4 linked regions of the Homo sapiens genome follow. The protein of the gene in region 1 interacts with the protein of each later gene in a pairwise test. Each region holds a gene or a part of one and is shown in the gene's direction. Other genes may lie near its edges. The genes, in order: CTNNA3, KATNAL1, NDUFB7 and SERTAD2.

The links.
Region 2: the proteins of CTNNA3 (region 1) and KATNAL1 interact in binary tests that used the Homo sapiens proteins (3 or more experiments, as listed by UniProt).
Region 3: the proteins of CTNNA3 (region 1) and NDUFB7 interact in binary tests that used the Homo sapiens proteins (3 or more experiments, as listed by UniProt).
Region 4: the proteins of CTNNA3 (region 1) and SERTAD2 interact in binary tests that used the Homo sapiens proteins (3 or more experiments, as listed by UniProt).

The regions. Positions count from the first base shown.
Region 1 is NC_000010.11:67,686,196-67,693,381, reverse strand, and holds part of CTNNA3 (catenin alpha-3), read left to right. Parts: intron 1-7,186. UniProt on the Homo sapiens protein: May be involved in formation of stretch-resistant cell-cell adhesion complexes.
Region 2 is NC_000013.11:30,303,815-30,312,749, reverse strand, and holds the start of KATNAL1 (katanin p60 ATPase-containing subunit A-like 1), read left to right. Parts: upstream 1-5,198; 5' UTR 5,199-5,419; intron 5,420-5,738; exon of another isoform or gene 5,739-5,810; intron 5,811-5,893; exon of another isoform or gene 5,894-6,071; intron 6,072-8,935. UniProt on the Homo sapiens protein: Regulates microtubule dynamics in Sertoli cells, a process that is essential for spermiogenesis and male fertility. Severs microtubules in an ATP-dependent manner, promoting rapid reorganization of cellular microtubule arrays.
Region 3 is NC_000019.10:14,565,502-14,570,790, reverse strand, and holds the end of NDUFB7 (NADH dehydrogenase [ubiquinone] 1 beta subcomplex subunit 7), read left to right. Parts: intron 1-2,689; exon of another isoform or gene 2,690-2,765; intron 2,766-3,857; coding exon 3,858-4,026; intron 4,027-4,525; coding exon 4,526-4,658; 3' UTR 4,659-4,713; downstream 4,714-5,289. Other genes in the region: TECR (very-long-chain enoyl-CoA reductase), read right to left, coding at 4,920-5,047, 5,128-5,173. UniProt on the Homo sapiens protein: Accessory subunit of the mitochondrial membrane respiratory chain NADH dehydrogenase (Complex I), that is believed not to be involved in catalysis. Complex I functions in the transfer of electrons from NADH to the respiratory chain.
Region 4 is NC_000002.12:64,630,033-64,637,625, reverse strand, and holds the end of SERTAD2 (SERTA domain-containing protein 2), read left to right. Parts: exon of another isoform or gene 1-702; intron 703-750; 5' UTR 751-754; coding exon 755-1,699; 3' UTR 1,700-6,005; downstream 6,006-7,593. UniProt on the Homo sapiens protein: Acts at E2F-responsive promoters as coregulator to integrate signals provided by PHD- and/or bromodomain-containing transcription factors.

The DNA.
Region 1 (7,186 bases):
GCTAGTCTAGAGATTTAAAAAGTGTGATTTTCTGATTCTTGTTTGGATACTGGATTTTAAGTGAGATGGTACAGCGGGGTGGAACTCCGGAGTTTAGCAAAGTTGCAAATCTAATGGAAAGTGACAGATAATTGAGGCTGCAGAATTTTTGAAGGTGAACAGGACTGTTAGCCGATACATCTGATTTTTCACATGCTTAAATACTGTTTTTAACCACATTATTTTTGCCTGGGATTCAGCGAGTAATCTGTAACCAATTTAATCACTAGCTTCTAGCATATGATAGGTGACTTTGAGTTCCTGTGTGCAAAATGGAAGATTAGGTCAAGTTTATTTGGCACCCTCCCCACCTCTTTTCTTTGCCTTTCATTATCCTAACCAGGATGATTTTCTGCTTCAGATGCCTCCTGGCAATGGGGAAATTGATTTGAAGGAGAAGGCAATGTTTAGTGCAAAGAAAGTCTCTCAAATACTGGAACTTGAACAATGGAGGCCCCTACTTTAAATTAGCACTGTTCAAAATGTAATTAGAAGTTCCCAATTTTTAACTAATCTATGAAACGAGATAAGAGGCTTGTGCCTGAAAGTAAATCAGCTACACCCTAAGCACTTTGTAGCAAGACTTTTTTTTTTTTTTTTTTTTTTATTGATCATTCTTGGGTGTTTCTCGCAGAGGGGGATTTGGCAGGGTCACAGGACAATAGTGGAGGGAAGGTCAGCAGATAAACAAGTGAACAAAGGTCTCTGGTTTTCCTAGGCAGAGGACCCTGCGGCCTTCCGCAGTGTTTGTGTCCCTGGGTACTTGAGATTAGGGAGTGGTGATGACTCTTAAGGAGCATGCTGCCTTCAAGCATCTGTTTAACAAAGCACATCTTGCACCGCCCTTAATCCATTCAACCCTGAGTGGATACAGCACATGTTTCAGAGAGCACAGGGTTGGGGGTAAGGTCACAGATCAACAGGATCCCAAGGCAGAAGAATTTTTCTTAGTACAGAACAAAATGAAAAGTCTCCCATGTCTACCTCTTTCTACACAGACACGGCAACCATCCGATTTCTCAATCTTTCCCCCACCTTTCCCCCCTTTCTATTCCACAAAACCGCCATTGTCATCATGGCCCGTTCTCAATGAGCTGTTGGGTACACCTCCCAGACGGGGTGGTGGCCGGGCAGAGGGGCTCCTCACTTCCCAGTAGGGGCGGCCGGGCAGAGGCACCCCTCACCTCCCAGAGGGGGCGGCTGGCCGGGCAGGGGGCTGACCCCCCACCTCCCTCCCGGAGGGGGCAGCTGGCCGGGCGGGGGGCTGACCCCCCCACCTCCCTCCCGGACGGGGCGGCTGGCCGGGCAGAGGGGCTCCTCACTTCCCAGTAGGGGCGGCCGGGCAGAGGCGCCCCTCACTTCCCGGATGGGGCGGCTGGCCGGGTGGGGGGCTGACCCCCCTACCTCCCTCCCTCCCGGACGGGGTGGCTGGCCGGGCGGGGGGCTGACCCCCCCACCTCCCTCCCGGACGGGGCAGCTGGCCAGGCAGAGGGGCTCCTCACTTCCCAGTAGGGGCGGCCGGGCAGAGGCGCCCCTCACCTCCTGGACGGGGCGGCTGGCCAGGCGGGGGGCTGACCCCCCCACCTCCCTCCCGGACGAGGTGGCTGCCGGGCGGAGACACTCCTCACTTCCCAGACGGGGTGGCTGCTGGGTGGAGGGGCTCCTCACTTCTCAGATGGGGCGGCTGCCGGGCGGAGGGGCTCCTCACTTCTCAGACGGGGCGGTTGCCAGGCAGAGGGTCTCCTCACTTCTCAGACGGGGCGACCGGGCAGAGACGCTCCTCACATCCCGGACGGGGCGGCAGGGCAGAGGTGCTCCCCACATCTCAGACGATGGGCGGCCGGGCAGAGACGCTCCTCACTTCCCAGATGTGATGGTGGCCGGGAAGAGGCGCTCCTCACTTCCTAGATGGGATGGCGGCCAGGCAGAGACGCTCCTCACTTTCCAGACTGGGCAGCCAGGCAGAGGGGCTCCTCACATCCCAGATGATGGGCGGCCAGGCGGAGATGCTCCTCACTTCCCAGACGGGGTGGTGGCCAGGCAGAGGCTGCAATCTCGGCACTTTGGGAGGCCAAGGCAGGCTGCTGGGAGGTGGAGGTTGTAGTGAGCCGAGATCATGCCACTGCACTCCAGCCTGGGCACCATTGAGCACTGAGTGAACGAGACTCCATCTGCAATCCCAGCACCTTGGGAGGCCGAGGCTGGTGGATCACTCGTGGTTGGGAGCTGGAGACCAGCCCGGCCGACACAGTGAAACCCCGTCTCCACCAAAAAAATACGAAAACCAGTCAGGCGTGGCGGCGCGCGCCTGCAATCGCAGGCACTCGGCAGGCTGAGGCAGGAGAATCAGGCAGGGAGGTTGCAGTGAGCCGAGATGGCAGCAGTACCGTCCAGCTTCGGCTCGGCATCAGAGGGAGACCGTGGAAAGAGAGGGAGAGGGAGACCGTGGGGAGAGGGAGACAGAGACGGAGAGGGAGAGGGAGAGGCTGTAGCAAGACTTTCTAGATGAAGGAAGCACTCATTAACTTACATTCTGGTACAAGCTCCTTTTCTCATCGCAGACCTGCAGTTTGAGTAGCGTTGCTTAAGTTACACTGTATAAACATTTATCTCCTCTTGAGAGGTGAAGCTGGCTAGGCTTCAGGGTCAGGTGGGGACTTGGAGAACTTTTCTGAATAGCTAAGGGATTGTAAATGCACCAATCAGTGCTCTGTGTCTAGTCTAGCTAAAGGTTTGTAAACGCACCAATCAGCACTCTGCAAAAATGCACCAATCAGCGCTCTGTGTCTAGCTAAAGGTTTGTAAATGCACCAATCAGGACTCTGTAAAAACAGAACCAGTCACTCTGTAAAATGGACCAATCAGCACTCTGTAAAATGGACCAATCAGCAGGACATGGTGGGGGCCAAATAAGAGAATAAAAGCTGGCTACCTGAGCCAGCAGTGGCAACCTGCTCGGGTCCCCTTCCACACTGTGGAAGCTTTGTTCTTTCACTCTTCATAATAAATCTTGCTGCTGCTCACTCTTTGGGTCCGCACTACCTTTATGAGCTGTAACACTCACCGTGAGGGTCTGTGGCTTCATTCCTGAAGTCAGCCAGATCATGAACCCACTGGGAGGAACAAACAACTCCAGACGTGCTGCCTTTAAGAGCCGTAACACTCACTGTGAAGGTCTGTGGCTTCACTCCTGAAGTCAGCAAGACCACGAACCCACCGGAAGGGAGTAACTCCGGACACATATGAACATCTGAAGGAATAAACTCCAGACACACCATCTTTAAGAGTGGTAACAGTCACCGTGGGGTCTGCGGCTTCATTCTTGAAGTCAGCGAGACCAAGAACCCACCAGAAGCAACCAATTCTGGACACATTTTGGCAACCCAGATGGGACTCTCGCCTATTGCCAAGTGATGAGTACCATCAGACCCCTTTTGCTTGCTATTCTGTCCTGTTTTTCCTTAGAATTCTGGGGGTAAATACTGGGCACCTGTCGGTCAGCTAAAAGCAACTAGCGCGGCCGCTGGACTAAAGACACAGGTGCCAGGCTTTCTGGGATAGGGCTCTCTAACAATCCCTGACTCTATGGAGTTGGGAATGTTGGTTTGCCTGGAGCCAGCTTCCACTTTAATGGTACTTCCAGGCTGAGCCGAGGGTTGACAGAGAGGAAAGCCATTCAGCTCCGGGGTCCCAACAACAAGTTGGTTGACCCTGCGGCCATGAGTGGAACTCTCAAAATCATGTCACCCAAGCGAGACTTGCCCATCTATCCTATCTCCTGACCCTTGCCTCCTGGGTCCTAATGCCTGTCAGACAAACTTCCTCTCGCCTCTCTTCTCTGAGGCTAGTCCACTTCTAAAAAGCACTCCCTGTCTCTGGTGCTTTTCTAGTTTCTCCTATAAGAATGATTTCTAGTATAAACTTCAGGACTCTTTTACCTTCTTTAGGCACCCGGGCTCACCAATCAGAAAGACATAATTTTTGCCCAAAGTCCCATCTGGGCAAGGGACTATCTGGAATTTTAGGATCCCTCTTCAGACAAGCAGGCCTAACAAAAGCTATTCCTGAAGCTAGGATATGGGGAGCTTCGGAAATGGTATCTTTCCTATTCATATAAGTGAGGACAAAAAGCATCACTCTTCCAACTCTGGAGATCCTTTCCCTCTCTCAGGGTATGTCCGTCCAGTTCATTTTTGGGGCATAACATCTTTATAGGACAGTGGTAAGGTCCCAATACTAACAGGATAATGCTTAGGACTCTAACAGCTTTTTGAGAATGCATCGGTAAGGGCCACTAAATCCAATTTTTCTTGGTCCTCTTTGTGGTCTAAGAGGACAGGCAAGAATGCAGGTTTTTGAGAATGCATCAGTAAGGGCCACTAAATCTGACCTTCCTCGGTCCTCTTTTTGGTCTAAGAGGAAAACTAGTGTTTCTGATGCTGCGTCGGTGAGCACAACTATTCTGATCAGCAGGGTCCAGGGACCGTTGCGGGTTCTTGGGCAAGAGGTGTTTCTGTTGCTGCATCAGTAAGTGCAACTATTCCAATCAGCAGGGTCCAGGGACTATTGTGGGTTCTTGGGGAGGGGTAGAAACAAACCAAGACCAAGGGTGGTTTTGTCTTTCAGATGGGAAACACTCAGGCATCAACAGGCTCACCCTTGAAATGCATCCTAAGCCATTGGGACCAATTTGACCTGCAAACCCTGAAAAAGAGGCAGCTAACTTTTTTCTGCACTATGGCCTGGCCCCAATATTCTCTCTCTGATGGGAAAGATGGCCACCTGAAGGAAGTATAAAGTACAATCCTATCCTGCAGCTTGACTTTTTCTGTAAGAAGGAAGGCAAATGGAGTGAAATACCTTATGTCCAAGCTTTCTTTTCATTGAAGGAGAATACACAACTATGCAAAACTTGCAATTTACATCCCACAGGAGGACCTCTCAGCTTACCTCCATATCCTAGCCTCCCTATAGCTCCCCTTCCTATTAATGATAAGCCTCCTCTAATCTCCCCCACCCAGAAGGAAACAAACAAAGAAATCTCCAAAGGACCACAAAAACCCCTGAGCTATCATTTATGTCCCCTTCAAGCTGTAGGGGGAGGGGAATTTGGCCCAACCCGGGTACATGTCCCCTTCTCCCTCTCTGATTTAAAGCAGATCAAGGCAGATCTGGGGAAGTTTTCAGATGATCCTGTTAGGTATATAGATGTCTTACAGGGTCTAGGGCAAACCTTTGACCTCACTTGGAGAGATATCATGCTATTAGGTCAAACTCTGGCCTTTAATGAAAAGAATGTGGCTTTAGTTGCAGCCCGAGAGTTTGGAGATACCTGGTATCTTAGTCAAGTAAATGATAGAATGACAGTCGAAGAAAGGGGCAAATTCCCTACTGGTCAGCAAGCCATCCCCAGTATGGATCCCCACTGGGACCTCGACTCAGATCATGGGGACTGGAGTTGCAAACATCTGTTGACCTGTGTTTTAGAAGGACTAAGGAGAATTAGGAAAAAGCCTGTGAATTATTCAATGATGTCCACCGTAACTCAGGGAAAGGAAGAAAATCCTTCTGCCTTCCTCGAACAGCTATGGGAGGCCTTAAGAAAATATACTCTCCTGTCACCCGACCCACTCGAGGGTCAATTGATTCTAAAAGATAAGTTTATTACCTAATCAGCCACAGATATCAGGAGAAAGCTCCAAAAGCGAGCCTTGCGCCCTGAACAAAATCTGGAGGCATTATTAAACCTGGCAACCTCGGTGTTCTATAATAGGGACCAAGAGAAACAGGCCCAAAAAGAAAAGCAAGATCAGAGAAAGGCCACAGCCTTAGTCATGGCCCTCAGACAAACAAACCTTGGTGGTTCAGAGAGGACAGAAAATAGAGCAGGTCAATCACCTGGTAGGGCTTGTATTCAGTATGGTTTGCAAGGACACTTTAAAAAAGATTGTCCTACTAGAAATAAGCTGCTCCCTCACCCATGTCCACTATGCGGAGGCAATCACTGGAAGGCTCACTGCCCCAGAGTACAATGGTTCTCTGGGCCAGAAGCCCCCAACCAGATGATCCAACAACAGGACTGAGGATGCCCGGGGCAAGTGCCAGCTCATGTCATCACCCTCACTGAGCCCCGGGTATGTTTAACCATTGAGGGCCAGGAAATTGATTTCCTCCTGGACACTGGCATGGCCTTCTCAGTGTTAATCTCCTGTCCTGGACAGCTGTCCTCAAGGTCCGTTACCATCTGAGGAATCCTGGGATGGCCTGTAACCAGGTATTTCTCCCACCTCCTCAGTTGTAACTGGGAGACTTTGCTCTTTTCACATGCCTTTCTTGTTGTGTCTGAAAGTCCCACACCCTTATTAGGGAGGGACATATTAGCCAAAGCTGGAGCTATTATCTATGAATATGGGGAACAAGTTACCCATTTGTTGTCCCCTGCTTGAGGAGGGAATCAACCCTGAAGTCTGGGCATTGGAAGGAACAAACTCAAGGTCCATCCTTAAGCCTTCCCACAGGACAAAACTTTTCTTTATACATCACAAAGAGAGCAGGAATAGCTCTTGGGGTCCTTACTCAGACTCATGGGACAACCCCACAATCAGTGACATACCTAAGTAAGGAAATTGATATAGTAGCAAAAGTCTGGCCTCACTGTTTACAGGTAGTTGTGGCGGTGGCTGTCTTAGTGTCAGAGGCTATCAAAATAATACAAGGAAAGGATCTCACTGTCTGGACTACTCACAATGTAAATGGCATACTAGGTGCCAAAGGAAGTTTATGGTTATCAGACAACCGCCTGCTTAGATACCAGGCGCTACTCCTTGAGGGACCAGTGCTTCAAGTGCATACATGTGTGGCCCTCAGCCCTGCCACTTTTCTACCAGAGGATGAGGAGCTGGTCAAGCATGGCTACCAACAGGTTATAGTCCAGACTTATGCCACCCAAGATGATCTCTTAGAAGTCCCCTTAGCTAATCCTGACCTTAACCTATATACCGATGAAAGTTCATTTGTGGAGAATGGGATACGAAGGGCAGGTTATGCCATAGTAACAGTACTTGAAACTAAGCCTCTTCCCCCAGGGACCAGCACCCAGTTAGCAGAACTAGTGGCACTTACCCAAGCCTTAGAACTGGGAAAGGGA
Region 2 (8,935 bases), on another chromosome or scaffold:
TGAAAATCCACCTTTTAAATCCTTCTCTTCCACTCAGTCAAGTTCCATTTCACTGTATGAGGTCTCTGGTAGTAGTTCCCGGCTTTCTTCATCATTAACTTTCTGCTTCCTCTCACTTGCTAATAACGAGTAAAACTGTAACAAGTAAAGAAGCTGAATTTCTGCATATCTGAGAGAGGACAGATTCCATATGGGTTCAGGCCATACTCTGATGGACAACTGCAGGCTCACCGCTAGTGATCCCTACAGGTCAGGCTGTGACTGGGGTCCAACAGTGACAACTGCTATAGTGGAACAGGATCTTTGCTTTTCATGGACCTGAAATCCAGAGTACCTCTACATGTTAGGACTGGCCCCTTAGCTGCATCTCAGGTCATCTGGCTATTTAAGAACTCCCAATCCTCTAAAGCAGTGTTTCTTAAACCCTTTTGATGGACACTTATGGCAGGAAGTACATCTTACTTAACAATCCATATTAGTCAGGGTTCAGTCAGGAAAAAAGAAACTTTAAGTAGGTATTTTAAGAGCAAGAATTTAGCACAGGGAATTGATTAGACAGATGTTCAAGGACTGAAAAATTAAAAAAGGAACACTGGAGTAATACATAGGTTATAACTGCAAGAAGCAGCTCCCGCCTGAAGGGCTGGAGATCAAAGGGAGGAGAGGAGGTTGGGGTTTGTAGGAAAGGCCTGTTGAAGCTGGGGCACAGGCTCCTGAAGAGGGACACTGTCTGGCTGCTGCTGCAGGTAATGCTTTGGGGAGGAGGGAGAAGAGATGCGATGAGGCTGGTTGAGATACAATAAGAAGCTGGAGACAAGTAAAACTGCCACCAGGCTAAAAGTCTGTGGCAGGAGTGATGCTGCCAAGCATAGCAGGCTGTCAGGAAGGAGCAAGTTGCTTCCCTCTCCTCCAGCCTTGTGCTCTTCCTCTGGTCCTGCTGTGCTGCCCCAGCCTCTCCACCCAGATGACAGAGGAGAAATGTGGTTTGCACAATTCTAGCCCCACCAACACAAAGCAGAGGACAGAGGGTAGGTTTGAAGCTGAAAGATGACAGCTCAGTAACTGCCATACGATACTTGACCCTAACCATGCACATACCCTCTGGATTTCATTTTCTACCGCATTCTATTGCATTCTACTTTACCCTACACTACCTTACCTTATCACTTTTTAAATATGACAAAGCCGGAAGAGACCCATCACATTGACTTCATGACCTACTAATAGACTGTGACCCACAGTGAGGAAAACTCTGCTCTAGATCTTTACGGTAAGAGGGCCTGAACGTTGGAATTCAGTGCTACTTACATACTGAATTCCTTCCACAGCAACAGCGACTTAAGGAATTACCTCCCAAGGTACTCCTCCACTGAATATGTATGGGGGCCCACAGTTATAGGCTTCAGGGAAATTTATATCAAGAGGCTGCAAATGTCCTGCATAGTACTAGAAGAGGGAGAGCTACCAGATAAAGGAAGTTTTGCTAAGGGGAAAAGATAAAAGAACTACCAATCAAAAACATTTATTGTGCCCTTATTATATGTAGAGTATTATGAAGGTGTTTTTGAGAATACCCAGAAATACACGTTGGAGGAGCTTGAAATATAGTGAGAAAAGACAAAAAGCCAATGAGTAAACAATACTGAGCAGCCACTCAGCAGTATGGTCAGCTGTCAAGGGAGTGAGATTGGCAGGAAATATTCTGAGCACAGAGCAGGGTGATATGACTGAGCAGGAATGATCTGGAAAGGTTTCATGTGAAGGTTTGTTTTCAGAATACGTAGACCTTAGATAGGGTAAGGCGCTGGTATCTTAGACGAAGAGAACAGAAGTAACAGAACAAGTTAAGGAAGAGTGGGCCTGCTTGTGCAGTGCTGGAACTTGTGGATCAGAACTAGCAAGAGAAATTGGAGCATCACCCACGGCCAAGGCGGAAGCTTGCAAATGGAAAAGGTGTAGTGACTGAACCTTGGCAACTATCCTCACATTTAAGAAGCAGGTAAAAGAGCTGGTGAATAACATAATGAAGTCTGGTTGGAAAGCTCTGAAGAGATCCAAGGTCAAGGACCCACCAAGGAGGGTAGTCAGCAAAGTCAAATGCCAGAGAGGCCAAGAACTCTAAGAACTGAGGAAAGACCTCAACTGTAAACCAGATGCGCTGTAAATGAGGGTGGTGGCTCTTGACCACACTGCCTGTGTGGATTAATGTGCTACTACTTTCAGCTCCATCTTTTGGATTTGTATAGGGTGTTTAACTATCACTTGAACAGGTCCAAAGTATCTGGTGAAAACAATAAACTATGGTTTACTATCGGTCCTTATTCGTTCCTACCTGTCCATAGCCATGCGAGGCATTTTAAGGCTGTGCTTCAGTGGCTTGTGGTCTTCCCTCCCGCGACTGCCCACCTCCAACTCACTTTTGTGACAGCTTTTGTTTGTGCTGCTGTCATCCATTCTCAAGTGGCCTGTCCTGCTGAGCTGATTTTCTGGGATCCTGGCTTCACAAAACAAGGAGCGTTATGCATTGGGACCTTGTCTTTGGAGACTTCGTCATGGCTGTAGGCTGCACTACAACCTTGGCCAGCTGCCTTGCAAAGAAAGACAAGTGATCGGTCACAAGGGAAACCAGATCAGGGAGAGATGGATCCGGTGAACCTATCATCCCTACTACAAACATGTGTTCAGCTGGTAGCAGATCAGTAACATCTTCTCCAGGAGTAAAGGAGAATTTATTTACATGCTCATTACATATGCAGAGTTGTGACCAAATTGCTGCAGGTGACAGGTCCAAGTTCCTATAAGGATGTCCTATGGCTTCATACCAGACTTTGTTCCGGACTTCATCTCTTAAGTGCTGTCATTTCTTCTGTACAAGCTATGGTTACTTTGGTTTCTTTTCTTCCTCTTAGACAGCAGATTCCAGCTATTATCACATAGCTTCCTCATTTATACTAGAGTAAACCATTATTATGGATGTAAGAAAATGGGTTTCATAAGTGAACCCACTGTGAAGGTAGCCAGGACAGGTGTATTAGTCCGTTTTCATGCTGCTAATAAAGACATAACCAAGACAGGGTAATTTATAAAGGAAAGAGTTTTAATGGACTCAGTTCCACATGGCTGGGGAGGCCTCACAATCATGGCGGAAGATGAAGGAAGAGCAAAGGGGCTTCTTACACAGTGGCAGGCAAAAGAGCTTGTGTAGGGGAACTCCCATTTATAAAGCCATCAGATCTCATGAGACTTATTCACTACCATAAGAACAGTACGGGTGAAACCGCGCCCATGATTCAATTATCCCCACCTGGCCCTGCCCTTGACAGGTGGGAATTATTACAATAAAGTGAGAGGTGGGTGGGGACACAGCCAAACTATATCAACAGGTCATGTACGTAAGCTGCTTAATATTTATTGAGCAGCTACACTGTGGACTGAATCAAATAGAATATGAGGATACATATGTGAAAAAATATTATTTTAATAGCTGGCTCCAGAGTTCCTCTTGGGAAGTTACTTTGTGTAGGAAAAAACTTTGGTAAACAGTTTAGGAATGGCAGGTAGCTATGAAGGCACAGATTAGGAGATGGAAATAAAAGTATTGTATAAAGAGAGGAGAGGAGGGGAGAGATGGGACCAGAAAGATGGTACAATAGTGGGAGGTTACAGGTTATGATGAAAAAATGGGGGTAGGTGGTAGGTGGATAAAAATATCATGGGAGGAACTGAAGGACTTTTAAGAGCAGGGATTTCTAATTTTAGGTTTTTTGCATCCTTAATTTAAAACCACTTATCTGCTCCAAACCTTCTAAAGAGTTGGCTATAGAAACAACCAAAGAAAAGGGGCTGATTTCGAAATTATGTGTCAGCAGGAGTAGAGAGAGGAGAGTTGTAAGAGGTGATATGTGGAGAGGTCTAAGTGTTCAGGAAAAGCAAGAACTGAGAGCCAGAAGTGACGGTGCAATCCTTGAGAGGACATTGGCCGTGGGGAACACCACAAGGTGGATAAGGGACTCAGTCAAGTTCAAGAAAATCTCTGTGGTAGGATGACTCAGCTGGATTACAGGAGCCATTTTTGTTATTTTCAACCATAATTTTTCAGGAGATATTCATTACTAGAAAATGACAAGGTCACGAATTCACTCCCCTTCCTCTTTTTTTCTATTAAATTTCTGGGCCTCAGTTTTCCCATCTATAAAATCTAGAGATTGGGCCTAGAATATCTCTGTAGTTTCCATTAGAGTCTATAGCTCTAATAATAATAACAACACATTTTTATGTTCTCTTTTGAGGTAAATTTACATGCAGTGAAATGTACAAATCTTAAATGTCCCATTCCAAGAGTTTTGACAAGTGCATATACTTCTGTAACCGAAACTCTTAGCTATAGAATTTTTTCATCACTACAAAAAATTCTCTCAAACTCCTCCCCGACAGCCAACCACTATTCTGACTTTTATCACTATTGATTAAATAATTAATATTTAATAGCTATTGTTAAATGCTAAGCTTTGTTTTATAGAGCTTCATCAGTATTAATGCGTGTATTTCTTACAAGAGTTGCAAGATGGATATCTCCATTTTTGCAGATCAAAACGTTAAGAGGTGAGAAAGGCGCCTCTGGTCATCAGCTACCAAGCACAGGGGCAGGACGTGAACTAAGAATTCGTTTTAGAAGCCCACGCTCTTAACCTGTTTATCCTAGAGTCCACAAACGATTGCCAAGAAACAGCATAAATCCAAATTCAGTCGAAAGCAATGCCATTTGCAAATTCTAAAACCTCCTGAATAATCCTAAAGGCCATATGCATTCCATCTTATCGAAGGATTCCCTTCTATCCCCCTCCCCAGAGAATGGAGAAAGGGGGTGCGAAAGACTTCAATTCGGTTTGACTGGAGAAAAACACAGAGGTGGCGTAGGATCCACACATCCCTTGGGGGCAGACCCAGCGGCGGACGCCTGGACAGGCGGCGGGAAAGGCGCTGCGACGCCCCGGGTGCCCCCTCCTTCGACGCCACTGGCATCACCTCCGAAAGCAGCAGGCACGAAGGTGCCCTGCCACGGGGGCTGGACGCAGTGGAGGCAGGCTCATCAAGCACGACCAGAGCTCAGTCGGCCACACGTCCTCCTCAATGTCACTGTCTCCCTGCTCTCCCACCCCGCGCCGCTGCACCTCCCTCCCCCCGGCAACCTGGGCGGGAGTCCCAAGCTCCGCCCCAGAGCGGACTCACAGCCCCCGCGCTCCCTCCCGCGCTGCGCCCACCGCGCGGCCGCGGCTGCCATGGCAACACTACGCCGCCGCCGCCTTTTCACGCACGTCGCGAGCTAACGGACTCGGCGGCGGCGGCGGCGGCGGCCTGCGCCCCACCCGCACCCCATCTGGACCGCATCGCTGAATGTGCCCGGACCTGCGCCTTCTGGGTAATGAATCCGAGAGAAAGGGGCGAGGGCGAGACAGCAGGTGGTGGAGGGCTCTAGCCAACAGCCCCTCTCGGCCTCCCACTGCCGGAGACGCCAGGGCAGTGGGCTGCGGGGTTCCTCGGGCGCTGGCTCCCGTGCGGGGACGGGGAGGGGCGCGGGAGCGCCAGGCTCGCGGTGCATCATGGGAATTGTAGTTCAGCGACTCCTCGGGCTCGCGGTCTTGGTGGGGTAGCTCGGACTGGCGAACTACAAAGCCCGGCGGCCCCGACCGCCGGGAAAGACCGATAAACTTTGAGCGGACCGGGACAGAAAAAAAAATCTCTCTTTGTCTTGAGGGGGCTGTTGAGTGGTCGCGGACCTGGGCTCTGTGCGTTGGGAAAGGGAAGTGGAGGTGAGCCTCGGGCTTCCCGCCCTGTAGCTGGGCCCGCCCCAGTTGCAGCGCTCAGCCCCACCCCGGCTGGGCCACCGCCCTGCACAGTCTCAGGGATGAGCAGCCGCCCAAGCTGCAGGGCCTCGGGTCTTCGGCGCCTCTGACCCTCGCAGGTTGCTGCCTTTCGGTGCAGAACCGTATGTATGTCACACATTGGATGTGAGACCTGAGAAACCGTGTTTTAACAGGTTTTTCTCCTTTCCTGGATACGTTTATTTCTGGGTTAGTCATGTTTGTTTTAAAGTAGCTCAGAGGTGTTTGCATATTAAACCCATCAATTGGTAATTACTCAAAGGGCAGTAATGTTTAAAGGTTAAGTGTGGAAATAGATAAAAAGATGTCATTGCGATTATATGGTGGTATCTGGCATTTTTAACTTTTTGCATTTTTGAATTTTATTTCTTGAGGTTCAAGGTTGTGAAATGAGTGCTCCACCCCACCCCCCCCTTGCCAGCCTGAACACTGCCTACACATATTTTGATTAGTTCAGCTTTAAATTACTAGTAACTTTTAAAAACAGACTTTTTTAGCAGTAGGCAGCAATAATTCTTTGATTATTCCAGTGTTATTCAGAATTTCTCAGCATGTTTTCGGAAGGAAAAATACCATGTTTTAATTATTTAGTTAATTCTTTATATATTTTTTATGTTCAGGAGTACACTTGAGTCCTTAGAGTTGACTCAAAGACTTGCTGGTAAAGGAAGCTGACACAGATTTACGAAACCTTCCTTGACGACCCTTTAAAATTTTTTAATAGGTAGATAACCATCCTAGAAATTTGCTGCTTTATGGAGTAAGTTGGAGAATTGTTGATATTATTGTGAGTTTGTGTGTGTGTGTGTTTAAAAACAAAAAGACCACAAATCCTATAAAACTTTCTCTTAATTAAAATGAAGTTGACCTGTGTAAATTTTACTTGAGGTTGCAATTTTGTACAAGGAGGAGATGGAAAGTAGGTTTAGTAAGACAGGTAGAAAACAAAATTGAGGCCTTATGTGATACAACATAAGGTTTGAAGTATTTTATTTATTCATTCAAAATGTGTTAGGAACCTATGTGCCAGGCATTATGCCAGGTGGTGAGAATAAAGAGATGAAAAAAGATAGTCTGTATCCTGCATGGGCAGTCTTGTCATCACAGTAGTGTGGTAGAGATAAGTGCAAGTTGCTCTAGGAGCCCAGAGGAAATAATCACATAACAGTAACATTTATTGAATATGTCAGGTGCTGTGAGGAGTATTTTGCATGCAACTCCTTACTTAATCCTCAAAACAGTTGGTGAAGTAGTTACTGATTTTTAGAGATGAGGAAACAGGCTTTAGAGGCCTTGCTCAAAATCATAGCTGGTAACGTGTGAACCTGGGATTTCAGCCCAGGTGGGTCTGGTCCTGATCTCAAGCACTGACCATTCTCTGTCATTTAGTAGAAAGATCCTGACTCTGTCTAAGGAAGTCAGGGGAGGCCTTCAGTGTGATTTGACTTTTAACTTGTGTTAAAATAGTTGAATAAGCTTTCACTGGAGTGATGATGAGGAAAGTCATTCTAGGACAAATGGATGGCACAAAATAAGCAAAGGATAGATTGAAGAATCAGTATTTTGTATTTGGGAAACGCTAGGTAGTTCTGAATGACTGGATCCCAGAATACTTGCAATTAGTGGGTGAGGCCAGATCTTAAAGTACTTGGCACCATATTCAGAGTTTAGAATTTTTCTTGATATAGGGCAGTCATTGAAGAATTTTAGCTAGAGTGGTGGTGGCGTCAGATTTGTATTTTAGAAAGATAACTCCAGCCCCAGTGTAGAGAATGGACCTGGGAGGGGAAACATTACAGGTAGTAGAAAAGCCAGTTGTATAATAGAAAAAAACAAAGTCCAGTAGAGAAGTGAAGAGAGTCTGAATTAAGCATTTGGAGTTACAGAAAGACATGGATTCAAGGAATATTTAAGAGATAAAATTGATATGACTTGATAAGAGTTTGGATGTTGGGAGTTAGATTTGGAACTCTTAGCTGATTGATTCCTCAGTTTCTGGCTAGCATGACTGAGGTAATAGTGAATCCGTTGATTGAGATGAGGAGGAGCTGGTTTTTATTGGGGTGAAATATAAAGATATTAGTTGAGTTTTGAGCATTTGTTAGAGGTTCCTATGGGATATTCAGGTGGAGGTGCATTTTAGTCTGGAGTTCAGAGAGAGCAGGCTGGAGTTAGAAGTTTGCATATAGATAAGTAATTAAAGCTACAAGGGAGAATGGACCAGCTCACATTGGAGTAATGAGTAGAAAAGAAAAAGGAAGAGGTTTGGATATGGAACTCTCATTTAAGAAATGTGTGTAGGCCGGGCGCAGTGGCTCGCGCCTGTAATCCCAGCACTTTGGAAGGCTGAGGCGGGCAGATCAGGAGATCAAGAGATCGAGACCATCCTGGCCAAGATGGTGAAACCTCGTTTCTCCTAAAAATATAAAAATTAGCTAGACATGGTGGCGCACACCTATAGTCCCAGCTACTCAGGAGGCTGAGGCAGGAGAATAGCTTGAACCCAGGAGGCAGAGGTTGCAGTGAGCCAAGATCATGCTGCTGCACTCCAGCCTGGTGACAGAGCGAGACTCCGTGTCAGGAAAAAAAAAAAAAAAAAGAGTTGTGTGTATGTGTTTGCGGGAGGAGCCTACAAATGAGACCCTAGTTAGGAGGCATAGAGGAAGAAGAACTGGGAGAGAGCATAACAAAGGAGGGGAAAATAAGGAAAGAAAGTAAGTTGTCTAATTTTGTGTCTCCAACTTATTTTCTGCATGATCATAGGCAGGTCTCCAAATCTGTACCCTTATTTCATATGAGGTGTTAATACTATTTATTTGATTTTGGGAAGTTGAAACAGTTTAGTGGAGGTAAACCCTAAAGTGCTCAACAACTGAAAGCATTTCTTCTCCCACTTCCTTACTAACAGTGTGGCAGGACTGCCAGTTCTGTCTGATAGAAAGGCCCTGTTCTAGACTTTACTTGACCATATTAAGCAGGTGGATCAGGTAGTAGTTATATTACAAAGTGATGATTAGAGTCTGAGGACTAATCAATTTTTTAAAATGAAGCTT
Region 3 (5,289 bases), on another chromosome or scaffold:
ATTAGGCACCGCGGATACAGCAGGGAACTGGAGGGATGCAGGCACTGTCTCCAGAGAACTCAGCACAGTGGGAAAGATTGTGGAATCAGGCAGAGCTGGGGGTGTCAAAGCAGGCTTCCAAGAGGCAGTGGCTGGAAACAAAGACGTGAAGGGTGGCCGGTCGTGGTGGCTCATGCCTGTAATCCCAGCACTTTGGGAGGCTAAGGCGGGCAGATCACCTGGGGTCAGGAGTTTGAGACCAGCCTGGCCAACATGGTGAAACACCATCTCTACTAAAAATATAAAAATTGAGGCCGGGCATGGTGTCTCACACCCATAATCCCAGCACTTTGGGAGGCCGAGGCGGGCAGATCACGAGGTCAGGGGATTGAGACCATCCTGGCCAATGTGGTGAAACCCTGTCTCTACTAAAAATACAAAAATTAGCCAGGGGCGTGGTGGTGCACACCTGTAGTCCCAGCTACTCAGGAGGCTGAGGCAGGAGAATCGCTTGAACCCAGGAGGCAGAGGTTATAGTGAGCCGAGATCACACCACTGCACTCCAGCCTGGGCGACAGAGCAAGACTCCATCTCAAAAACAAAATACAAAAATTAAGCCGGGCACGGTGGCTTATGCCTGTAATCCCAGCACTTTGGGAGGCCAAGGCCGGTGGATCACCTGAGGTCAGGAGTTTGAGACCAGCCTGGCCAACATGGTGAAACCCCGTCTCTACTCTACTAAAAATACAAAAATTAGCCAGGTGTGGTGGCGCATGCCTGTAATCCCAGCTGTCTGGGAGGCTGAGGCAGGAGAATTGGCTGGAACCCAGGAGGCAGAGGTTGCAGTGAACCAAGGTCAGGCCACCACACTCCAGCCTGGGTGACAGAGCGAGACTGTCTGAAAAAACAAAACAAAACAAAACAAAGATGTGAAGGGGCATGAGTAGGGGTTGACCAAAGAGAGGTGGCAGAGCCAAGCTTCTAAGCAGAGGAGGGACACAATCAGTTTTGGTTGGTCAAAAGGTCACACTGTCTACTGAGTGGGCGACAAGCTTGAGACAGAGACCTCTAAGCAGCCTGGATTTGAGAGAAAGTTGGGAGATGGTATAATCACTCCAGTGTCCACACTCCGGGTAGTCCTTCCGCCCCAGCTGAACCTGCAGTTCATTGGTCCGTCCACCTTCCTCCCACTGCCTCACATACCTTGCTTTCCCCAAGATCAGCTTTGCAAACGCTAGCAACCTGCTGCCCTTCTCTCTTGCTTACTCTGGATAAACTCACCTCTTTCCCTTCCTTGGTGCCTATCCCCGTGCAACTGAACATAATGGGGGGCGGGGAGATAAGAAAAAAACAGCTCTAAGCCAGGCAAAATGGCTCATGCCTGTAATCCCAACGGTTTGGGAGGCAAAGGCAGGAGGATTGCTCAAGGCCAGAAGTTCAAGAACAGCCTGGGCAACATAGCAAGGCCCTGTCTCTACAATTTTTTATTTTTATTTTTTAATTAGCTGGGTGTGGTGGCGCATTCCTGCAGTCCCTGCTGACCGGTCTCCCGATTGGTACTCCAGTGGACTCTTTATGGTGCCTGGCCTTTCTCTTACCTCCCGGATCCTTCACTCTCTCCCTCCCTCCTAGATCACTGTCCCCTGCCCTCTCTTTCCTCCTTTCCACCCCCTTTCAGCCAGTCACTTTGCTCACTGCAACATCTGCCTTCCCGGTTCAAGCGATTCTCCCGCCTCAGCCTCCCGAGTAGCTGGGATTACAGGTGCGTGCCACCACACCTGACTCATTTTTGTATTTTTAGTAGAGACAGGGTTTTACCATGTTGGCCAGGCTGATCTCGAACTTCTGACCTCAAGTGATCCACCTGCCTCGGCCTCCCAAAGTGCTGGGTTTACAGGCGTGAGCCACCGCGCCTGGCCCATATTTATTTATTTGTTTGTAGAGATGGGCTCTCGCTCTGTTGCTTAGGCTGGAGTGCAGTGGGGTGGTTATCACCCACTGCAGCCTCAAACTCCTGGGTTCAAGCGATCCTCCCGAGTAGCTCTGGATACTCCGTGTGCACTACCGTGCAAAGATAATTTTATTTTTTTCTGGACATGGGATCTTTCTGTGCTCCCCAGGCTGGTCTCCCTAATACTTAAGCACTGCCAGACACGCTGTGGTGCTCTGTCTTCTGTCTGTTCTGTGTCTCCCTCTGAGGGCAGGGACACTTGTGTGTTGTGTTGCCTGCTGTATCCCCACCACTAAGCACACAGTAGGCAGTCTAAAGTCCTTGCTGCTAGCTGATTATAAGTTCAAGACAAAAGAGGGAGGAGTCTAGGATTGCCACCTGGAGCTCCAAGTGCAGATAGGGAACAGCCAGGGGCTGCAGGTGATACCCAGGCCTGGGGCTCAAGCGAGGTGTGGGGTGGAGGGACCACATCGGGCTCATCTACATACGGGGCGGCAGCAGAGAAAAAGGCTCTCAGGCCGGGCACAGTGGCTCACACCTGTAATCCCAGCACTTTGGGAGGCCAAGGTGGGTGGATCACCTGAGGTCAGGAGTTCAAGACCAGCCTGACTAACATGGCGAAACCCCATCTCTACTAAAAATACAAAAATTAGTCGGGCATGGTGGCAGGCGCCTGTAGTTCCAGCTACTCAGGAAGCTGAGGCAGGAGAATTGCTTGAACCTGGGAGACAGGGGTTGCAGTGAGCTGAGATCTTGCCACTGCCCTCCAGCCTGGGTGACAGAGTGAGACTCCATCTCAAAAGAAAAGAAAAAGGCTCCCAGAACAAAGCGTAAGGTAAGGCAGCCATAGAGATGGGAGGAAACCTGGGGAGGAGGGATGTGGGAGGAGCCACAGGAAAGAAGGAAGCGGGAGGCTGGGGTCCTGGGCTGTTGGGTGGCCCTGTGAGAGCCCGTGTCTGGGCAGTGAGGGGGTAGGGCAGAAGCCAGGGAATGGGACAAGGGGCAGGAGAGGAGGACCTGGGCCTCAGTGGGATGAGAGAATCGCAGCTGGGAAGCAAAGGGGAGAGAAGCCAGCAGGGGACGACTGCCATTGAGATGTGAATATATCTCGTCTCACTTGCGCAGATGGGAAGGAGCTGGGACCGAGAAAGATGTGGTGGACGTCAGGAGGGCTAGGGAGGCTGGGTCTGAGGGAGGCGGTGGGGAACGAGTGCAGGATCGCCAGGCACAGGCTCCGGGGTGAGTGTCCAGGATTCCTCATGCTCCCATCGGCCCCCTCCTGAAGGTTGATTTGTCCGGAGTCAGGTTTGCTAGGTGAGTGGGGCACCGGGACCCAGATACTAGTCCAGCTGTCTTCTGAGCCCACGCCTAAGTACCTTACAGGTACTGTTAGCTCAGTGGATGCTCGGGTAACTTCCATGACCGGATGGTCAGTTCTGAGGCTGAGAGAGAGGCCACGCCGCCGGCCAGTGCAGAGCTGGGCCTTGGGTGGGTTGCAGACAAGAAAGGCTGGGAGTGCTGCCTGGAGCCCCAGGTGCAGGTGGAGGGGCTGAGGGTTACTCTGGGAGAAGGTGGATTCTGAACTCGGACTCTGGAGAGCGGGGCTGTAGAGAGCTGGGGACGGGCATCCCTGTGGGAGGGGAGGCAAGGATCCGGCACGGGATGTTGAGGTGCCTCAGGGTGATGGGGAGCCACCTTCTCCTGTCTGGCCCTTGGTGTCTGGAGTTGCCTTTGTGCAAATTAGAAAAGGAGGCCCCTTCAGGACAGTGCATCCGTCAAAGGCATCTGCCATCCACTGCCATCTGGATGTGAATGGGGGACACCCCAAGCCGTGCCTTCCTGAAGCCGTGTGCCTCGGTCCCCTGGGGATCCCCGGAATTGGGGTGGGGAGCCTCCAGCCTGGTTGAGCCCCGCCCACTCCCTGCAGAGATGGTGGCCACACAGCAGGAGATGATGGACGCGCAGCTGAGGCTCCAGCTGCGGGACTACTGCGCCCACCACCTCATCCGGCTGCTCAAGTGCAAGCGTGACAGCTTCCCCAACTTCCTGGCCTGCAAGCAGGAGCGGCACGACTGGGACTACTGCGAGCACCGCGAGTGAGCACCCCCACACCAGCCCCCAACACCCCGGCCCGCAACACCCCATACCCCCAGCCTTCCACACCCCTGGCCCACCCAAGCCCCCCACATGCCCAGCCCGCCCAAGCCCCCCTCCCACCCCCGCCAACACCCACAGCCTGCACCCCACCCAGGCCTGGCCCCTGGCAGGATGTGGCTCCAGAGGCCAGGGACCTGAACTGCCACTGAGGTTTCTAGCCGGGCCCCACCTTAGTCCCAGAGAGGGCTCTCTAGGGGCCTGTTTGATGGGGACAGGGCAGGTGGCTGAAGCCACCTAGGGGAGTGGCCAAGCCCAGGTTCCAGTGGGAAGCCCTGCCACCTGCGTGGGCAGACCCCAGACCCAAGCCACAGGCACTCGGACATGTCTTCTTCAGAGGCCTCCCCCACAGTGCTCTGGGACGGCCCCTCCGCTTCCCAGGGCTTGGGGGGCGTGTCCTGGCCAGGGACCCTGACAGCCCCTCTCGTGCTTTTCCCCCAGCTATGTGATGCGCATGAAGGAGTTTGAGCGGGAGCGGAGGCTGCTCCAGCGGAAGAAGCGGCGGGAGAAGAAGGCGGCAGAGTTGGCCAAAGGCCAGGGACCCGGGGAAGTGGACCCCAAGGTGGCCCTGTAGGGGGTGCACCCCCCACCCTATGGACCAGTCAAATAAAAGCCTTCAGGCCCCTCAACCAGAGTCCCCTCTTACTGCTCCGACGCGAGAGTGGGGAGAGAGTGAAGGGCAGTGTGGTGGTCCCCAACCCCGGAAAGAAACACACAGAGCCCGAGTCCGACTGGGGCAGGCGGGCTTTATTCCGGGTGCTGGAGAGCTGTGGGCCCCACTCCTCCCCCAGAATGCCACCGGGTTGAGGGGCTGAGCCTCAGCAGGGGTGAGCGCTCAGAGCAGGAAGGGGATGATGGGCATGCGCAGGGGCGGGTAGTCCCGGAACTCCTTCAGGTAGCTGCGGTGCTTGCCCTTGGCCCAGATGGTCATCTGGGTGAAGCCCACCAGGGAGAACAGGGCCACTGCAGGAAAGAACGGGCGTCAGGGAGGGGCTGCCGGCCCGGAGGGGCAGGGCCCCGCCGAGGGAGGGCGGCAGGCTCACCTGGGAGACACTGCGTCATGATGGCGAAACCGATCCAGGACCCCACCTGTGGGCAGGGGCGGAGAGTGAGCGTGGGCAGCCTCGCAACCCGTGTATGTGGCTGTCCTGGACTCAGCCAGCCACCTCCCGCCGCCCCTGCTTTCTGAGTCAGGGATGGGAACC
Region 4 (7,593 bases), on another chromosome or scaffold:
TCAAAATTAATCCAGTTGTCTTCAAACATAACTGTGTGTGGATGAAGTTGAGCCAAGGAAGAACTTAGGCTGGGACATACGCATTCCTCCCCTTGATTCTAAATGAAAAGTGGCGGCGGCTCAGTCACTGTGGTCATTTAACACAGGTGCAGTGCTTCACCACATGTCCCCAACCAGGCAGAAAGACTCCGTGCTTAATGAGGAAGGAAAAGCATTTTGAAAGCACACACAGTTCTACCCAAATTATACATGTTACCTTTCTTTAACTTGGTTCTTTTAATCCTTTAAGAAGTGCTCAAGCTGTAATCTATGACACCTGTATCTGTTTAGGTCATAGCATTGTAAGTGTTTTCTTGGGCTTTAAAAATAAATCTACGTGGGGGAGGGAAATCGAACCTGCATGATAATCTTAGGCATGCGAACACAAGCACATGAGCTGAGAAAGTCAAAATCATGGTTTCCATGGTAATTCTTAACTTGTCTGTGTCGTACACATTTCTCAAGAAATACACTCACCAGACTACCTAGTGATAAAAATTGCTCCACAGGCATACAAAGGTGGATTTTCTAACTCTCTCTTATTGTAAAAGGTCTTCCTTCCTCCCACCCCTAATTAATCCACGTGTACTTGTAAATAACCCTGGGCAGGAAACTGAGGTCCAAGTCCTGCCCTCTAAATCAGTCTCTTTTTTTATGGGAGAAATCAGCTTTCATGTGATTAATGCCATTTCCTCTCTCTCCCCTCTGCAGATATATGTTGGGTAAAGGAGGAAAACGGAAGTTTGATGAGCATGAAGATGGGCTGGAAGGCAAAATCGTGTCTCCCTGTGACGGTCCATCCAAGGTGTCTTACACCTTACAGCGCCAGACTATCTTCAACATTTCCCTTATGAAACTCTATAACCACAGGCCCCTGACAGAGCCCAGCTTGCAAAAGACCGTTTTAATTAACAACATGTTGAGGCGGATCCAGGAGGAACTCAAACAGGAAGGCAGCCTGAGGCCCATGTTCACCCCCTCCTCCCAGCCCACCACCGAGCCCAGCGACAGCTACCGAGAGGCCCCGCCGGCCTTCAGCCACCTGGCGTCCCCGTCCTCCCACCCCTGCGACCTCGGAAGCACTACGCCCCTGGAGGCCTGCCTCACCCCGGCCTCACTGCTCGAGGACGACGATGACACGTTTTGCACCTCCCAGGCCATGCAGCCCACGGCTCCCACCAAACTGTCACCTCCAGCCCTCTTGCCAGAAAAGGACAGTTTCTCCTCTGCCTTGGACGAGATCGAGGAGCTCTGTCCCACATCTACCTCCACAGAGGCGGCCACGGCTGCGACTGACAGTGTGAAAGGGACCTCCAGCGAGGCTGGCACCCAGAAACTCGACGGTCCTCAAGAGAGCCGCGCAGATGACTCAAAACTGATGGACTCTCTGCCTGGGAATTTTGAAATAACGACGTCCACGGGTTTCCTGACAGACTTGACCCTGGATGACATCCTGTTTGCTGACATTGATACGTCCATGTATGATTTTGACCCCTGCACTTCCTCATCAGGGACAGCCTCAAAAATGGCCCCTGTGTCTGCCGACGACCTCCTCAAAACTCTGGCTCCTTACAGCAGTCAGCCTGTCACCCCAAGTCAGCCTTTCAAAATGGACCTCACAGAGCTGGACCACATCATGGAGGTGCTTGTTGGGTCCTAAGACCCAGGGACCCAGCGACTATGCCCACCCAGACCCCAGAGCGTTCCCATAACCCTGACAGTTCTCCACACTGTGCATGCACCCTTGCTTGCCTTTTTCAGAGAAAAAGAAAATTTTACAACAGGATCACACTAGTTTTTGCTTTGAGCAGAGTTGGAGTGCCTTCATCCAAGTATGACCACTTTTAATACACTTTTTTGAGTGGTTCCTCAGAGACCTACTACCCTGGTATAGGAAAGAATCCATTTGAAGACAATGTTGCAATGTTGAATGACAAAAATAAACAGTTCAAGTGAAGCACAAGGATTAAGTTGGAAAAGCTGTAAATTGCATGTGCATATTTGTCTATTTTTTCTATAAGTTTTATTGCAAGAGGTAAAGAAGAAAACTATATATATATATCTTATTTAGATAATCTCAGTACCTTTTCTGGCATTTTTGCCCTGTATAGGTTGACTTGGCAATTCGGCCTTTTTAGAGGCATTAACTACTCCTCGTAAGTGTTGCATTTACATGGCTGTTTAGAAAACTGCTGCCCAAATTTATTTTATATTTTTGTACAGATTCTGCAGTTTATGATATTGTTTTTCTAAAAACAAATGCTGTTTATACATATGAGATAGCTATTTTGATAGGATTTGCTCACATAGTTCCTGCAAACTTCAGATGTACAAGTTGCACTTGTACTTTTATAGAGTTGTAATGTTTTATATGTGTATGGTGCAAGAGAAAATTGGATCAAATCAATCTGCAGTTGATGTCCCCAAATGCAAACACAGGCACACACATGCACACACCCATAAACACACACACAGTGCTTTAAGAAAGGGCCAGGTGATATCACACCCAAATTTCACAAGCACTGACCCCCTGGCACCAACACCCGCCAGTACTGTGACTTCCAAAGCCAGAGCCACATGTGCTCATCAAACTTGCATTAAGCAGTTGGCGGGAGATGGCTGTGGAGCTGGGGGTTTAAGTGATGGTTCTCTTTTGCTCCCTCTTTTGAGGGTAAAGCTACTGTCTTTCTTAAGAGTGTATTTATGCCAAGTTTGCGCTTTTAATTGTTTTTATTTTGTTTTTTAATGAAAACCCAGATCTTTCCTTTTTGGCATAATTTTTATGATGACCTGAAATTTTACATCCGAACAAAATTTTACATCCGAAAAGCAACCAACTTCTTCATGGAACTCAGCCCTGTTGCAATGCTTAGGGCCCTTAAAGAAGAAAATCTCCCCAGAAGGCATCCATCATGTTGCTTAATTGTCTTCTGCAGCTTCCTTTCCCTAGAGCTTTCCCTGTGTTGCTAAGAGCTGAAAATGGCATCTTCGTGATCACCACAGTGAGCTTGGCTCGCCTCGGCCGGCCCGGGATGCACTCTTACAACATGTGTGACTCTTGAACCTGGAGTTCATCACATTACGTCACAGCTTCCCATCTGGTTGCTTTCCTGAGTCAGCTACTTCACACTTGTCAAGGCTGTTTTACCCCAAAACTCAGACAGGACTTTCTATGCATGTTTTCCCTCCTCCCCCCAATTCCCCCCCCCATCACCTTATCTCCCAGGACACACTTGAGAAGTAGCTTTTTATTCCTAGTGGTGTACATTTAATTTTAAAAAGGTTGCAATGTATCATGCTTGTTGCCGAAACTGTTTATGGCCTTCTTGTTTCAGTTTTTTCTTTTCTTCCAATGGTACTTTAGCTGTTGAGTGCAGGTTACAACCTATATTGTTATGCAGATGGCTTCTTTAGGAATAACTTTTATATTTATTTAAAAATTTTTAAATTATGGGATGTTTTGTTGTTGTTGTTGTCTTTGTTGTTGGTCATTTGTCAATATTCAGTCACCAATTCTGCTCACTTCTTGCCATGGATAAAATTGGGTCTTTCTGGCTAATTAAAAAAGACAACTTTATAAAATGGCACTTTAAGCAAGCCATAGTTAGTTTTATTTTTGTAATGCACATGGCAAAGCAAAGACGTTTGTGATGAAGGAACTGCTCATCTAAGCAAAAGATTTGAGTATGATATGATAAAGGCTTTCTACATTCTAATTTACTTTTTCCCCCCACTTGAATGTGTTTTAAAGGCTAATTATCAGCTCAGTAGAGCAGTGAGAAACTGATCAAATTGCACTTGTTCTCCTACAAGCAACCTCCACGCAGACACCTCGTACTGCTACAGGTGTGTCATTTCCTTTAATAGGACCAGGGACCATGTAACTGAGGTGAGGGTTGTAGTAGATGCTTCCAGTGTCAGTATGCCTGTTAATTTTAAGAGCTTCCCTTTCTTGCAGAGAACAAGTCTGCCCAGATTCCATGCTTTCTATAACTGGAGGACCTGGCAAACCTGCCGCATGCTGCACACATCTACCTACGTACACATATACAATAGTATTGATGATTCTGAACAATAACAGGGTAAAACAGTTGGTTTGCCATTGTTAAAAACTGATTTACAGTAACTTACAACAACTGTACTTTTGTTGGATTAGCAAATCATGTGTTTAAACAAATCCCATATGTTGGGCAACAGTTCAAATAAGCACGGAGAAGTGTTGCCCAAACTTGGTTCTCTGACTCTTATGTATTTGTAAGGCTGGGCTTCAAAATCAAAACAAAAACCCCAAAAACAGCAGGCAAATGCTTTTTAACTCTGACACCGTTGCCATAAATCCCTGATACTCAAAGTCTAACAAGAAAGACATGGAAAATTAGCAGCCCATTTTCAGAAAGATCAAAATGATCTAGGGTTCTAATTGCTTTTGCATCCTATTCTTACAAAGTGATGTCCCAACAGGGAACAGTAGGAGCTGGAGTGGGATCTCCAAGTCCCAGTTTGAGTGTGGGATGTGCTTCCAGCAGTGCCTTCCCTTTATGAAAGACATCACATGGCATCCAGGGCCAGGCAGGCAGCTTGAGGTGCCTTTACGAGAAAACCGAGCTGGGGCTGGGAGAGGACAGTTATTGACACTGATGTGCAATGAAGTGACAAGATGAGAGCAGAATCGTAAGAGCTTTGAATTTGAAGTGAGTTTTTTTCCCCCCATAAGTTATTTATTCCTTTTTTCTGTGTAAATATATTTATTTTACTGTGGAGCGCTAACATCTGGATCGTAACATGTGCAGAATGTATGGTAGGAATGTATTCTCTTGTAGGAATGTAAATCTGTATTAAAAGGGGGTCCAAGCCAGGCCCCCAGGTCTTCTCATTGTATGCACAGTCCGCATTCATTTTTACTCTTCTCTAATATGGGTCTATTTGAAATATGCAAAAGGTATGAGGAATGTTTTAATACCTCCAAATTTTTAAGAAAAGCATCAAAGGGTTGATATTTTTTAAAGTTTTTTTAGTAGCACTTTCTCTGGATGACAGAAGGAGCAACCACATGGGCACCCTTGTTCATACCAAAGGGTGAGCAGTGGCCAGAGCCTCCTCTGCACCTCTCGAGTGTCTTTACCAATTGAGCTTTTTATCGCCATAGCCCCTTGGAGTGCCCCAGCTGCCCTGAGGTCAATCAAGGAAAATTTCTTAATGAAATAAGCTCCAAAGAGCCAAAGTATCAACTTACAGATCGTTTTTAAAGCTTAAATTTATGAACCACCTTTGTGGTAAACAATGAATTATGAATACCGCAGGGCAGCCTTCTTAAATGACAAATGTAAAAAAAAAAAAAAAAAAGACTCTACTTCGTGCAGCAATTGCTACTCTATACGAATTGTCTTAATTTGAAAACCTTGCTGTTACAAATTGGACCTTTATACATTTTCTGAAAACAATGAAAAGAGTATATTTAACCTTTTCTGGCTGTAAATGGTTACCTTCCTGTAACTGCCCCGCACCTGGAGGCATGGAGTTGTGTGCATCCTGCTTATGTACAATTGTTTTCAGTGTTTCTAAGAATGAGTCTGAATGGTTCTTGAAAATTAGCCAGGATCAAATGCTATTGCAGACAAAGCCAATAAAAAGTTGGACTTCTTTTGGGGATAACAAGTTTTGGAAGAGAAATGCAGGCCATATGTGCGCATGACCGAGATTTTGAAAAAAGATGTACATAGTGACATGTTTGGTGCATGGTTTTTGAGGAGGGCTTTTGTCAAAAAGGAGGTATAACCTTTCCCCCACAGACCTGAGAGCTGTGCCTTTTCTATGCAATATTACAGACGTTACATCGGAACCCAGATGGCTGTATTCACATGTAGGTTTGGGCTGTAATCTAAACAATTGGACAGATTAAATGTACATGGAAATGAGCAGTCTTACTTTTGTAGTTTTATATTATACAATAAACAGTTAAAAGATGAGAGAGGCATGCTTGCAGTTTTCTTTTGATGGGAGCTCAATCAGCTTATTTGTGACAGTTTGCTCACATTAAGCAAAGTCCAGCAAGAGAGAGCAGCAGGGGGGCCCCGAAGGAGTGCGTGCTGTTGGTCTTCCTGAACCGTCCTGGTCTCAGGAACCACCCTTCTCTCCTGGTTCTCCTCCTGCTTCTTGGACCCTTCTGGACCTCCTTTTTCTCACATCTGTGCCCCAGCTCTCTTTAAAACATTGTCTTTTCCAGGGTTTGGCCCATGACTGCACTTCACTGAGCCTCCATTCCTGCTGCCTCTTGCTTTCCCAAGGTGATCTAATCCACTCAGGACTCTCAAAACTGGTCTCCAGCCCCTGCCTCTCTCCTGAGCTCCAGACTTCAGTATCTACCAAGATTTGCTCCCTCACTCTCAGCGCGTCTAAAGAGCTCTCGTTTCCCCTGGGGGCTGATTCTTCTGTGGGCTCGTTGTCTTCAGCACTCTGCTCCACGCTTGGCTCAGTTGCCCACCCTTGCACCCTGTTCCGCAGTCCCAGCCATGTCATTCCCTCTGCCACCACCTCTCCATCCTCACCATAGCGTCCCCAGCTCGGACCCTTTCTCTCTCCTTGCCTCTGACCGCCGTACCTGTTTCCTGACTAGTCTTCCTGCTGTGATCGTCTCTCTACCATCCCTGATGCTGGAGTTGACATTCTAAAATGCCAGTGGGTCACGTGGTTGTTGCACGTCCTCCAGGTGTACCCACTGATTATACCATCTGGACCCTGCCCCTGCTGTCTTCCAGTGGGGAGTGGGGGAGACCCTGTGCAACCTCCTTGGCCACTGGGCTGTCTTGGATGGAGTCATGGGATCTGGCCTCACCTGGCCTAGGCAGTTTTTTATTTTGGTGTGGTTGGGCCACCACACCACTGGCAAGGGAAAAGGGATGGATGTGTGAGACCTGGGAAGTGAAGGTTCAGCTCAATCAGCAGTGGAATGTGAGGTGGGGTGTGAAGTGCTGGGGAGGTGTTAGGGGCTGAATTGTTTCCCCCAAAAAGGTAGGTTTCAGTACCTCAGAATGTGACTTTAATTTGGAAGTGGGGTCTTTATAGAGGTAATTAGGTTAAAATGAGGTTATTAGTGTGGGCCCTAATTCAGTGGCTAATGTCCTTATAAAAAGATATTTGAACACATACATGCATACATGGAGAAGGCCATGTGACAGTGAAGGCAGAGACTGGGGCGGTGGATCTACAAACCAAGGAGTGCCAAAGATACCAGCAAACCACCAGAAGGCAGGAGAGAGGCATGGGACAGACACTTTCTTACGGCCCTCAAAGCAACCAAGCCTGCTAGCACCTCAATCCTGGACTTCTAGCTCTAGAAAAATAAATTTCTGTTGTTCCAGCCACCCAGTCTGGGACACTTTGTTTCAGCAGCCCTAGCACACTGATGCAGGGGTAGAAGAACAGGGCGAGCACTTTCCAGACACCCGGCGGAGATAAGCACCAGGCAACTAGGACGGAGGGTCCGTTGTTCAGTAGAGTGGTTTGTATCTGGAATTAGGAGCTTCTGCTATTAATTAATGATAAAACTTTGGCAAA